Homo sapiens: one gene and its partner. Each later gene encodes a partner of the first gene's protein in a complex. Each region holds a gene or a part of one and is shown on either strand. Other genes may lie near its edges. A codon is read from its position in the direction of its gene.

Region 1 (6,197 bases):
AACATCTTTTGAAAAATTCAAATTTTTACTGTTCATTCACATATCATTTTAAATTGAGGTTTAGTTCACATACGATGAATGCACAGCTCGTAGGTATACAGTTTAACGACTTATGACAGTGGTATAACCACAAGACCAGCAACATTTGAATCTTTCCATCACCCTAGACAGTTTGCCCTGTGTCCCATTCCAGTTAAATTACCTTTCCTACACACACAAAGGCAACTACTGTTCTGATTTTTGACACCAGAGCTTAGACCAACTATTATTTAAAGTCATGTAAATGCAAATATGTAGTATACAATCTTCTGTGGCTGGATTTTTTTTCACTCAACATTTTTTTTGGAGATTCCTTCATTTTGTTGCATGTATCAGTTGTCTTATTTTGAATTGCTGAGCGGAATTCCCTTGTATGGATATACCATAATTTGTTCACTTATTTTCCTGTTGGTGGATATTTGGATTATTTCTGGAATTTGGCTCTTAAGAATAAAGCTGCTAGGAGCATTCTTGCACAAGGCATTTTGAGAACATATTTTCATTTTTCTTGAGGATATACATAGGAGTAGGTTTGTTGGGCCATAGAAAAGGCATATATTTAATTTTATAAGAAACAGTTTCCAAAGTGTTTTTCCAATTTACTCTCCCACCAATAATATCTGAAAATTCCAGTTGCTCCACATCTGCAGCAACTTCACCAAAAAATACTGTCACGTTTAAAATTTTGTTCAGTCATTTTAATGTCAGATATTTATATAGCAATTCAATATTTTACTTTATGATATTATCCATATTTATCCCATTCACATCATTTCTCTCAAACAGTAACTACAAGGAGATTAAGGAATTATGCTAGAATTTTTTATTTATTTATTTATTTATTTTTTTAGACAAGGTCTCACTCTGTCACTCAGGTTAGAGTGCAGTGGTGCAATCTCCGCTCACAGCAACCTCTGCCTCCCAGGCTAAAGCGATCCTCCCACTTCAGACTCCCAAGTAGCTGGGAACACAAGTGCGTGCCACCATGACCAGCTAATTTTTTGTATTTTTGGTGGAGACAGGGTTTCACCATGTTGCTCATGATGGTCTTGAACTCCTGAGCTCAGGTGATCAATCCACTCACCTCGGCCTCCCAAAATGCTGAGATTACAGGTGTGAGCCACCATGCCCTAGAATTTTTTTATGTGTCTTCTGGGGCATGTGCATATTTAATAAACGTTCTTATCATCATTAAAACAAACTGATTATATACTTAGAATTTTCATAGTTACTAAGTGTATAAATCATATGTGTCAGGTAAATATTTTGGGGAGACACTTTATAATCTCATCATTATGCTTGAATTGTTTCATTTCAAGCCAACAATAAACTATTCAAATTCACTCAAAATTGGGGGTAAATTAACTTAGAAATTTCTATAAAGAGACGGGGAAATTTCATATAATGAGATAGGAAATATTAAGTTTAAATGCCTCAAAAGAATGTTGCATATTCCTATAGTACTTCTATAGTCTGCCTGAACTCATCATCAACTTTCTCCCTTCCAGATGATGCCACCAGTCCCCATTTCTCAACACGTCATGAAGGGTCCTTCCAAGTTCCTGTCCTGTGTGCTGTAATGAATGTGGTCTTCATCACCATTTTAATCATAGCTCTCATTGCCTTATCAGGTGGGTCTACACTTCATCAATTCTTTCAAAGCCTCCTAGCTGTAAGCATTCATGCCCAGCTGAAATCAATATTAGTTTAGTCTAGTTAATCAGAAACTAGCTAATTCAGAATCATCCCATGTACCATATATGGCCAATTTCCTAATCAATACTAAACATAATTCCACAATCCTTGAATAATTAATGTAATACTTTTATAAGTATTAAAAGTATCTATGATTTATATATTACTGTAGAATAAAATTGCATTTGAAAAGATGTTTACATCTAGAATGAAGGGAGCTGATTTGAATTCTGAATAAATACCTATTTAGCTAGAAAAAAATGTGAACTTCACATTCATTGATTATGGAAAAAAATCGTATCTAAAGCCATAGATTAATCAGGAAGTGGCCAGTCTTTTGTGTTTTATCTCAAAGGACACAGAATGGTAGTTCTGAATAATTAAGATTATATTTAAAAGTTCCCAGAGAGTCAGTAGTGATTTGGTATTCAATACCTCCAGCTGTACCAAGATATATTTGTATCTTTTACAAATGGGAATGTTTACCATTGTTTTGAGATATTCTGAGTCATATGTCTTTCTGTATTTTGAATTGGTTCCCTAAAAGTTAGTTACTCTCTCCATCTTTCCAGCCTAGTGCTATAAATACTGCATCTTCAAATTCTTCCGCCTCTGCATTCAGATTCAAAACCTTATTTGAAATGTATAATGCACTTTATCCTTTCTAGTCCAAAGAAATATCTAGTCCAAATTTTCAGAATTGTTCTATATTTCTGTCATTTTCTGACATTATGACCAAAAGTACATCCCCTCATCCTCATATCTCCATCCAATGATGATTAGGCACAATGGAAGATCAGATATGGTCCTGAGAACTTTCTTTCTTCATACCCTTTTCAGAATTCTACTTTTTAGCTTTTATCCTTTACTTTATCACCACCTAGCACAACATAGCATCCTAAGGCTAGTTTTGCATGCTGTGGGTATTTGGTTTCTTTTGTTACTAAAACAAAGCATTTTTCTGTTCACAGTGGGCCAATACAATTGTCCAGGCCAATACACATTCTCAATGCCATCAGACAGCCATGTTTCTTCATGCTCTGAGGACTGGGTTGGCTACCAGAGGAAATGCTACTTTATTTCTACTGTGAAGAGGAGCTGGACTTCAGCCCAAAATGCTTGTTCTGAACATGGTGCTACTCTTGCTGTCATTGATTCTGAAAAGGACATGGTAAGAATAAAAAAAAGATAAAATACTACTATTTTAATTCATATGGCTAATCAGTGCTTTCCTTCCGTTTCTAAGTGGAGAAAACAAACAAACAAACAAACATTGTACCTATTTCAGATGTAGGAAAATGTCATCCCAGAGAACCATATGATCAGCCTGAGGTCAAAATGAGATTTAATTTAATCTTTTAAATTTGATTTGATTGCTTAGCTTCAAAGACCAGAAATCCAAATATGCTGATCCTATATAGAATGAGTACATGGTCAGATAAGCTGTCATGCCTCAAGTTGCAGCTTTTGAGAAACAGGATTTACTATCTACTTCCCCAGAAGGGTGTTTAATGTAACAAACTCCTTTGTGCTTTCTTTAAGAACTTTCTAAAACGATACGCAGGTAGAGAGGAACACTGGGTTGGACTGAAAAAGGAACCTGGTCACCCATGGAAGTGGTCAAATGGCAAAGAATTTAACAACTGGTAAGTCTCCAGAAGTCTCTTTATATTCCCCAGGGTGGCATCTCAGGAAAATCACTTTCCTTTTCTCCTTTCAAAGCACTTTAAATATAAAGGCTGAGCTCTTCAAGAGCTCTAACAATCTCTTCTGAATGCGTATACTCTGGAATTCTTTAATAACAGGCTTTATTATTATTCTTTTTCTTTATCCACACTTATAATACATAAAATAAATGCTTATAGTAATTTTTCTCAGCAAACTCTAATGTGAGTAGTAGATCTGGTTAATTTGGAAATATTTCAATAATAATTATGATGATGCAACAAAAACCCATTTTCAATGTCACATTTAGTCTTTACTAATAAGACAGTTGCTGGAAAATAAATCCTTCTTACTATTTCTCAGTTTTCATCTCCACAGAATAAAGAATAGTTTCAATGCCTAATTATGAGTTTCTATACACCTGAAAGAAAATTTGCCCCAGAATTAGATACTCTATTTTCATTACCTTTAGTTAAAATACATTTAATGTTTGAAGATCATTTTATAAGTTTGCTGTTGATCATAATACTGATAAAGTATCGAGATTAAAATTCAGGTTTCTAGAAAAGGGATTCCTAATATTTGTCCTATGGCTCCATATCCACAGATGGGCTTCAGGAGCCATAAACCCCTTAAAGCTGTATGCACTAGTATGCATGGCTGTTGAATGCATACAATTTTGTGAAATTATTTATTGAAAAATCTATGAACTCAGAAATGACCAAGAATCACTTATCTGGTGCCATGCCAACCAAATGAATGGCGTGCTTTCCTCTTACTTCCATATTTTTTCTCCACATCCTATTTTTTTTTCAATTCTTGTCCATTGTCTCTACAGATTAGTCTATGATTATTTGACTTGTGTATCCCACTAAGAATTTAAAAGAAGCAGAGGTCACCATCTCCGAGTTCATTCTCATGTAACTGAATGAAAACAATGAGCTGAAAATAATTCTAAGTTTTTTTATTGTTTGACAGGTTCAACGTTACAGGGTCTGACAAGTGTGTTTTTCTGAAAAACACAGAGGTCAGCAGCATGGAATGTGAGAAGAATTTATACTGGATATGTAACAAACCTTACAAATAATAAGGAAACATGTTCACTTATTGACTATTATAGAATGGAACTCAAGGAAATCTGTGTCAGTGGATGCTGCTCTGTGGTCCGAAGTCTTCCATAGAGACTTTGTGAAAAAAAATTTTATAGTGTCTTGGGAATTTTCTTCCAAACAGAACTATGGAAAAAAAGGAAGAAATTCCAGGAAAATCTGCACTGTGGGCTTTTATTGCCATGAGCTAGAAGCATCACAGGTTGACCAATAACCATGCCCAAGAATGAGAAGAATGACTATGCAACCTTTGGATGCACTTTATATTATTTTGAATCCAGAAATAATGAAATAACTAGGCGTGGACTTACTATTTATTGCTGAATGACTACCAACAGTGAGAGCCCTTCATGCATTTGCACTATTGGAAGGAGTTAGATGTTGGTACTAGATACTGAATGTAAACAAAGGAATTATGGCTGGTAACATAGGTTTTTAGTCTAATTGAATCCCTTAAACTCAGGGAGCATTTATAAATGGACAAATGCTTATGAAACTAAGATTTGTAATATTTCTCTCTTTTTAGAGAAATTTGCCAATTTACTTTGTTATTTTTCCCCAAAAAGAATGGGATGATCATGTATTTATTTTTTTACTTCCTCAGCTGTAGACAGGTCCTTTTCGATGGTACATATTTCTTTGCCTTTATAATCTTTTATACAGTGTCTTACAGAGAAAAGACATAAGCAAAGACTATGAGGAATATTTGCAAGACATAGAATAGTGTTGGAAAATGTGCAATATGTGATGTGGCAAATCTCTATTAGGAAATATTCTGTAATCTTCAGACCTAGAATAATACTAGTCTTATAATAGGTTTGTGACTTTCCTAAATCAATTCTATTACGTGCAATACTTCAATACTTCATTTAAAATATTTTTATGTGCAATAAAATGTATTTGTTTGTATTTTGTGTTCAGTACAATTATAAGCTGTTTTTATATATGTGAAATAAAAGTAGAATAAACACAATGGTTTCCAAGAAAGTTCATTCCTTCAAAATACATTAAAAAGTATATACTATATGAGAAAGCAGAAAACAGTTACTATAACTTAGGAAAAAATCCCATGTAGAGTAAAACCCTTAGTTTTATAATAGCTTATACATATCAAATTGTTTTCATATGCTTATATGCTAAAGGGTGTATGTATCCATATCCATTTTTCTGTATATAGCAGATGCTCTGTAATAATTACTCCTCATAGTCAATGCTCTGAAAGTATCTTGTTCAATTCTGAGGTGCTACATACACTTTAGTTATTTATGTAAAATAATTCAATATATAGAAAAGAGGCATAATCTTCATGGGATATTTCAATCAGCAAAAAACTCAATGATGTAGTTTGGATGTGTGTCCCTGCCCAAATCTCATGTCGCATTGTAATCCCCTTTGTTGGAGGTGGGGCCTGGTGGGAGGTGATTACATCATGGGAGCGAATCTCTCATGAATGGTTTAGCATCATCCTCTTGATGGTCTCCTTGCACCTGAGTGAGTTCTCAGGAGATCTGGTCTTTTCAAAGTGTGCAGCACTTTCTCTCTCTCTCTCTCTCTTTCTCTCTCTCTTTCCTGCTTTCTCCATGTGACATGCCTGCTCCCACTCCACTTCACCTTCCAACATACATAAAAGCTCCCTAAGCTTCCGCGGAAGCTGAGCAGTGTCAGCATTATGCTTGTAAAAACTGCAGA
Region 2 (8,181 bases), on another chromosome or scaffold:
AACAAACATATGAAAAAACCTCATAATCACTGGTCATTAGAGAAATGCAAATCAAAACCGCAATGAGATACCATCTCATGCCAGTTAGAATGGTGATCATTAAAAAGTCAGGAAACAACAGATGCTGAAGAGGATGTGGAGAAATAGGAACGCTTTTACACTGTTGGTGGGAGTATAAATTAGTTCAACATTGTGGAAGACAGTGTGGCGATTCCTCAAGGATCTAGAACTAGAAATACCATTTGACCCAGCAATTCCCTTACTGGGTATATACCCAAAGGATTATAAATCATTCTACTATAAAGACACATGCACACATATGTTTATTGTGGCACTATTCACAATAGCAAAGACTTGGAACCAACCCAAATGTCCACCAATGATGGACTGGAAAAGGAAACTGTGGCACATATACACCATGGAATACTATGCAGGCATAATAAAGGATGAGTTCATGTCCTTTGCAGGGACATGGATGAAGCTGGAAATCATCATTCTCAGCAAACTAACACAACAACAGAAAACCAAACACTGCATGTTCTCACTCATAAGTGGGTATTGAACAATGAGAACACATGGACACAGGGAGGGGAACATCACACACTGGAGCCTGTTGGGGGTGGGGGGCTAGGGGAGAGATAGCATTAGGAGAAATACCTAATGTAGGTGACGGATTGACGGGTGCAGCAAACCACCATGGCACGTGTATACCTATGTAACAAACCTGCACATTCTGCACATGTGCCCCAGAACTTAAAGTAAAATAATAATAATAATAATAATAATAATAATAAAAGATGGAGGTGGTGGATGGGTGAAGCATTTTCTCTGTAGTGTAGGGAATTCTCACAGGTATGTAGCTCCTTAATCCTCACAATGAAAGAGGCAAATATCATTATTTCATTTTACAGATGAGGACACTGAGGTTCAAGGAAGTTAAAAGAACTTGCCTAAAGTCACATAGCTTAGAACTGGCAATATCAAGGCTGAACCTAAGTGTCTGTTCCAAGGCTCAGTCATGTTCCACTAATTTTGAATGTTGGCAAACGAGGAGAGAGAGATATTGGGACCTAGGATGAAGGGAAGAAAGAGTTTTTGGTAGAGAAAACACATAAACATTTATGTAAGTTGAAAGTAAAGAGTCCTCAGAAGCTAAGAACTGAAAGTACAAGGGAGAATAAGAATAATTGAGCCAAGTCTCAGAAAGTTTGGAGGAAGCAGCATGCTGACCTGGGCAAGAGTTTGCCTTGGAAAGGAGTAAAGTTGCTTTTATTTCTGAAACAGGTGGGAAGGAGGTAAGGGTGGGTAAAGTTGCTATTAAGCTGGAGCTTGGAGAGGAGGGAAATTGAGATGGTCATACTATTTCCTCCTTGAAATAAGAGGCTAGTTATTCTCCTGTGAATAGACAAGTAAGGGAAAGCCTGGATTTTTACCAGTGACTGGGTCAGGGGAGGGAAGAGGGGAGAAAAGGGAGTTGGAAAGTGACTGGAGCAATTAGGAAAGAGAGTAAGGCTCAGGCTTGTAATCCCAGCACTTTGAGAGTCCAAGGTGGGAGGACTGCTTGAGCGCAGGAGTTCAAGATCACCCTGGGCAACAAAGTGAGACTCCTGTCTATACAAAAAATAAAAATAATAATTATCAGGACATGGTGACTGGTGCCTGTAGTCCCAGCTGCTTGGGAGGCTGAAGTAGGCGGATCCTTTGAGGGCGGGAGATCAAGGCTGCAGTGAGCTATGATTTCGCCACTGCACTCCAGCCTGGATGACAGAGCAGAGCCAGACCCTGTCTCAGTTGAAAAAAAGAAAAAAAAAAAGGAAAGGGAAAAGAGTAGAGTTGCAATATTTAGCAGATAAAAAATATAGCTCATGGCTGGGCTCGGTGGCTCATGCTTGTAATCCCAGCACCTTGGGAGGCCAAGGCAGGTGGATCGCCTGAAGTCAGGAGTTCGAGACCAGCCTGGACAACATGGTGAAACCCCATCTCTACTAAAAATACAAAACTAGCTGGGTGTGGTGGTGCATGCCTGTAATCCCAGCTATTCAGGAGGCTGAGGTAGGAGAATTGCTTGAACCTGGGAGGCGGAGGTTGCGGTGAGCTGAGATCACGCCACTGGACTCCAGCCTGGGCAATAGAGTGAGATTCTGTCTCAAAAAAAAAAAAAAAAAAAAAAGATAGCTCACACAGTTACATTTGAATGGCACATTTATGACAAATTTTTGTTTAGTGTATGCTCCAAAGATTGTGTGGTATTTTATCTGTAAACTTTTAAAGAGAAACACTAAAGCATGTGTAAAGAACAACAAAGCCACTTTGAAATCAAAAATTGGAAATGGAGCAAACTTAAGGTAGGAATGTTGGGCTTGACTTCTAGGCAGCAGCAGACAGGGAGTTGTACTGGCAGTCAGGAGATAGCTTGAGAATGCAATTTTTAGGGCCTCCTTGGAGAGCAATGGGAAGAGACTTATATGGGAACTAGAGACTTGGAATTGGCCAGGACGCCATTGCTGGAAACATTTGCCTACTATCTAATTTTACCTAAGTTGATCATCTACAATTACATCTCATAGGTGTGTACTAAAGATGAATATTATTAAATAACAATCTGAAAGGTTTTTGGACTCTGTAAAACACTTTATCAATATTGAATGTTAAAAACCAGTGGTATTCACAAGAAAACAACTGATATCCCCAAGGAAATTCTTGAACCTGTTTGAGGTTTATCATGGTGGTCTGGAGTAGTGGTTAAGAGTCTGCAGCCTGTCCCACATTAAGCAAGCTGCTTAATATGTCTGGGAGTCAATTTCCTTGTTTGTAAAATTAGAATAATTATAGTGCCTAACTTGTCAGATTAAATGGATTAATATGTGTAACACTATGTGCAAATACTAAAAGTACAATGTTACATGAGATATCATAGGCAGACAATGAGAAGTTTCAGAAAACATTCATTAATATGCATATGTATACACTTTGTATGCTTACGTAGAAAATGAGTGGTTTTAAAAGGACATTCATTAGCATACTTTTATATGCATTTTGTAGACTTGTACAGTCAGAAATGCAGCAAATGTAAAACTTTAAATCTAGAAGTCTGTTTCCCTCTAGGAACATATATTTCAATTCCTTAACTATTTATTGACTGATAGCGTTTGAGCCACAAGGCAAGGCATTTGCAATATTTAGGTTTTGGAACCCAGCTCTGCCACTCACTAGCTGGGAAATCTACAAGTCACCTTAGTTGTCTGAATGACACTTCTCTCAACAATAAAATGGCCAGCAATGCTTACTTACTTCACAGAGCAGTAAGGTTAAATTAACCTAGCACATGCTTGATACAGACTAGGTGTGAAATTTCACTTTGATTCCTTTGGCTTTAAAGAATGCATAAATTAGTGTGGGTGGAGGCGGGAGAAGGGGGGGAATGCCAAGTCCCCCGTTTTGTTGTGCTGGGTAGACACAATATACCTCTTCCCCTTTAAGTGAAATAAGTCTTCAAATCCAATTAGGATCTACTCTGGAGTCTTAGAGGACCGTTATCTTGGTTTCCACATTATATGCACTGTACTGTTGTTGAAGCTGTGGGTATGTATTGGGTGCGTCGCTGTCGATGAATGCTTTAAAACAGCTGTGAATTAACTGTCACTTCTTTTTTTTTTTTTTTTGGCAAACTCACAAAATCCCAGAAGTCAGGGGTCTGTTGTTTGTTCATTCTGCCTCCTTCTGAGTCATTCAGGTACAGGGTGTGTCTGCCAATTGAAACTGCACAGCGGAGGAAGTTTTTGAGTTCACATCTGCCGGGATGGGAACGCAGTGCGACCAGGGACTGGGTGGAAACTTTTACAACAGTAATGCAAGGGCAGAAGCGTCCTGTCCTGAGCTTGTCACGCAGGCAGATCTGACCAAGTCCGCCTCTCAGCCTCACGTTCTTAAGTAGCATCTAAGCAAAAGAAAAGGGTGGGCAAAGTGCTAGTAATGAGATTTGAGGCCTCTGAGTCGACTCCCAAGCAGAATGTGAGAGAAGGGTGCCGGCTCCTGCTGGGCAGCTGCAGTTGCTCCGCAGCTCCTGGCCGAGAATCTCCCCCTTTGGAAATTCCTGAGCTGCCCAGGCGTTTTGAATCTCTCAGGACTCAGCAGCAGCCCACCCCCTCAACGACCTCTCCATTGGCCAGAATCTGGGACACACAGCCTGACTTTGTGCTCAGCTGAGGGAAACCCCTCGCCCAACACCAAAACCGGCGCTGGTTCATTTCTCTGTGCACTCTGGGAAAGCCACTGCCCCTCAGACCGCAGTTGCGAGTAGCACGAGGATCTGGGGTGGCGGGGGGAGTACAGGAACCTCCCGGTTCATTCTCCCTCCCGGGCTGCTTGTCTCCTCCGTACCTCTCGCAGCCCCTTCCCAGCCTCTCCTCCCCAGAGCGCCGCCGACACTCGCCGGGCCGCGGCTCAGGTTTTCTGCTGCTCGCGCGAAAGTGGCTCGGGGAGCTCCTGGCCACAAGCTCAGCACACCGATCCTCCTAGGGCTGCGGGGGGTGTGGGACCAGGGCGGTGCGCTACGAGACTCCGGGCCGTCCTCTGCCTCCTCAGACTTTTCGAGAGAAAAGTTTTCAAAGTCTCTCCACCTTTTTTTTTTTTCAGGGGCTCGGGAGAATCCTCTCCACAGCCAGGGATCAGCGTCTATCTGGGCGAGGGCAGTGATTTATACAGTAGAATCCAGGGGTTACCGGGCTCCGCCCCTTCTCTCTCTCTCTTTTTTTCTTTCATTTGTTGTTTGGGGAGGAGGGGTTCTTTTTTTTTTTTTTTTTTTTTTTTTTGCTTCTGCCCCAGATCTTTCCTGGACAGTGCGTCTCAGCAGTTCAGATCCGGGGGCCCCCAGCTGACAGAGGGCGTGGGGGGTTAAGGCATTAACCCCTCCCAGCCTCTTCCTGAAGAAACCACCCAGCCTTGGCGCGGCGCTGGGTGACTTCGCGTAGCAGGCAGGGAACTGGCCGCGGCGAGCGGGACTGGCCATTGGAGTGCTCCGCTGCGGAGGGAGGGGACCCCGACTCGAGTAAGTTTGCGAGAGCACTACGCAGTCAGTCGGGGGCAGCAGCAAGATGCGAAGCGAGCCGTACAGATCCCGGGCTCTCCGAACGCAACTTCGCCCTGCTTGAGCGAGGTAGGGGGCGGCGAATGGCGGGGGTCGCGGGCGCGGGGAGCCCGGTTGTGGTAGGGCTTAGGTGTCAGAAACGAATTTTTAAGTCGAACGAGGCAAACAAAAACTTAGAAAACATGCATCTCCGGGCGCTGAAAATTTGCATCTCTGGGCTACTAAGGAGCCCATCTCGATCAGATTGTTCTTGGGCACTTGTGATTTATGGAGTTCAGAAAAAAGGTTAATTCCCAACTGTGGAACCTACGGGTGTAGGGGCAGTGAAAATTGCAGTTGGTCGGAGGAATAGGAGGGAAGGCGTTAAATTTTGGAAATCCTATAGACAAAGAATATGGTGGGTGGTGTGGAGCGTGGGTAATGGCTTAAATTAGTACTGCCCAGGAGCAGGGTATAAAATTAGTTGGGGGAAAATGCGGAGCTTCTTGGCTTGAGCAGCCTCTGCTGTTCGCGGAGTTGCTGGGATTGTTCTCATCTCTATTACCTCATTTTATTGCATTGCTGCATTACCTTGAAATATTTAAGCAACTTAGAAGTAGACTTCTGCTGACCAGTGCCGTCTTAGAAAGTTTCTTTGTAACTTTCTAGTCCTAGGAGAGGAGTCAACGTGTTGGGGGACTGCAGTAAATAAAACTGCCCACGCAAATTTAGCAATGCACCAGGGAGCAGTTTAATGTGAGTTTCTGAAGAGTAGTTTTGCAATCGAAATTAGAAATGTGGTAGCATGTATTATGGCTGTCATGAGTAGTTTGATTTCTCTCTTTTGTGTATGTTTTGGCTAAACTAAACAAAGCAAAAAATATTTATGCAATCAACTAATGTACGAAACTTCTGGGATTTGCTGCAATCTGTTATGAATGGTTTTAACTGAATACCTTTAAATTTACTTGCCCTGGCTTGGGGTGGGGGGTGGGGTGGGGGGGCGCGGGGGGAGGCGGGGAGAATAAGAAGAAGAAAGAAAAGGCAGTCGCTTCACGGAGGCGCTAAGCTTTCCTGTTTACAGCAAGGCGGGGCGGGCCTGGCTGCCCACACCTCACTGCGCCCTCGGACCCTAAGCACACCTGCTCCTAGAGAGTTATTAATAGAGCCCCCAAATGGCTTACGCTTTCAAATGATTTTCCTGCAAATCTGATTTCTTGCATGGCACATGGCAATTAGGAGGTGGTGCTAGTATCTTTGAACTGGGGGGCTGGGGGTGGGCATGGGGGACAGAGGTGTGTGTCTTCGCCCTCAGACTGGCAGTTGAGTCTTTTCCGAGGAGAGACGTGGGCTGGTATTGAGCGTGCAGCTAAGCTGGTGACTGCTTCAGAGAATCTCATGGCTGGAAATCCGGGGGTGAGGGGGTGTGGGGTGGTGAGAGGGCAGGAGTGGAGTTAAAATGGGGTGTAGTTCTCTAGGTTTCCCATTCCTCCCACTCCTTGTTTTCCTTTTCATCATCTTTTTTTTTTTGTCAACCCACAGCCAACATCGTAATTCCCATTTCCCTTTGAGTGAATGTGGCCATAGAGTTTCTCCCTCTCTTTTTCTTCCCCCTCTTCCTTTTTTGAAAAAAGAAAAAAAAGGAAGAAAAAAGATAATTTGATTTTTAAAAAAAATCTCTCTCCCTGAGCTCTCCCCAAGTTTCTTTAAAACAAATCAACAACAACACAATTGGAGCAGTGCCTTAGCTAGAATGAATTATGCCAGTATGCTGTGGCTCTTTCCCTGACTCTCTCCTCTGACTTGTTTAAGGCTGCGGTTTCCGAGGCCCTCTCCAGCCAAGGAAAAGCTACACAAAAAGCCTGGATCACTCATCGAACCACCCCTGAAGCCAGTGAAGGCTCTCTCGCCTCGCCCTCTAGCGTTCGTCTGGAGTAGCGCCACCCCGGCTTCCTGGGGACACAGGGTTGGCACCATGGGGCCCACCAGCGTCCCGCTGGTCAAGGCCCACCGCAGCTCGGTCTCTGACTACGTCAACTATGATATCATCGTCCGGCATTACAACTACACGGGAAAGCTGAATATCAGCGCGGACAAGGAGAACAGCATTAAACTGACCTCGGTGGTGTTCATTCTCATCTGCTGCTTTATCATCCTGGAGAACATCTTTGTCTTGCTGACCATTTGGAAAACCAAGAAATTCCACCGACCCATGTACTATTTTATTGGCAATCTGGCCCTCTCAGACCTGTTGGCAGGAGTAGCCTACACAGCTAACCTGCTCTTGTCTGGGGCCACCACCTACAAGCTCACTCCCGCCCAGTGGTTTCTGCGGGAAGGGAGTATGTTTGTGGCCCTGTCAGCCTCCGTGTTCAGTCTCCTCGCCATCGCCATTGAGCGCTATATCACAATGCTGAAAATGAAACTCCACAACGGGAGCAATAACTTCCGCCTCTTCCTGCTAATCAGCGCCTGCTGGGTCATCTCCCTCATCCTGGGTGGCCTGCCTATCATGGGCTGGAACTGCATCAGTGCGCTGTCCAGCTGCTCCACCGTGCTGCCGCTCTACCACAAGCACTATATCCTCTTCTGCACCACGGTCTTCACTCTGCTTCTGCTCTCCATCGTCATTCTGTACTGCAGAATCTACTCCTTGGTCAGGACTCGGAGCCGCCGCCTGACGTTCCGCAAGAACATTTCCAAGGCCAGCCGCAGCTCTGAGAAGTCGCTGGCGCTGCTCAAGACCGTAATTATCGTCCTGAGCGTCTTCATCGCCTGCTGGGCACCGCTCTTCATCCTGCTCCTGCTGGATGTGGGCTGCAAGGTGAAGACCTGTGACATCCTCTTCAGAGCGGAGTACTTCCTGGTGTTAGCTGTGCTCAACTCCGGCACCAACCCCATCATTTACACTCTGACCAACAAGGAGATGCGTCGGGCCTTCATCCGGATCATGTCCTGCTGCAAGTGCCCGAGCGGAGACTCTGCTGGCAAATTCAAGCGACCCATCATCGCCGGCATGGAATTCAGCCGCAGCAAATCGGACAATTCCTCCCACCCCCAGAAAGACGAAGGGGACAACCCAGAGACCATTATGTCTTCTGGAAACGTCAACTCTT

Evidence for each region.
Region 2: the proteins of CD69 (region 1) and S1PR1 are in contact, whole or in part, in a cryo-EM structure (PDB 8G94), measured with the Homo sapiens proteins. Residues at the interface, in NP_001772.1 of Homo sapiens: Val41 (codon at 1,604), Ala44 (codon at 1,613), Val45 (codon at 1,616), Val48 (codon at 1,625), Val49 (codon at 1,628), Thr52 (codon at 1,637), Ile53 (codon at 1,640), Ile56 (codon at 1,649), Ile59 (codon at 1,658), Ala60 (codon at 1,661), Val63 (codon at 1,670); in NP_001307659.1 of Homo sapiens: Asn157, Leu160, Phe161, Ile164, Ser165, Trp168, Val169, Leu172, Ile173, Gly176, Ile179, Met180, Gly181.

The regions. Positions count from the first base shown.
Region 1 is NC_000012.12:9,751,770-9,757,966, reverse strand, and holds the end of CD69 (early activation antigen CD69), read left to right. Parts: intron 1-1,547; coding exon 1,548-1,670; intron 1,671-2,705; coding exon 2,706-2,905; intron 2,906-3,276; coding exon 3,277-3,380; intron 3,381-4,377; coding exon 4,378-4,486; 3' UTR 4,487-5,481; downstream 5,482-6,197. UniProt on the Homo sapiens protein: Transmembrane protein expressed mainly on T-cells resident in mucosa that plays an essential role in immune cell homeostasis.
Region 2 is NC_000001.11:101,231,945-101,240,125, forward strand, and holds the start of S1PR1 (sphingosine 1-phosphate receptor 1), read left to right. Parts: upstream 1-5,074; 5' UTR 5,075-5,155; intron 5,156-6,877; 5' UTR 6,878-7,040; coding exon 7,041-8,181.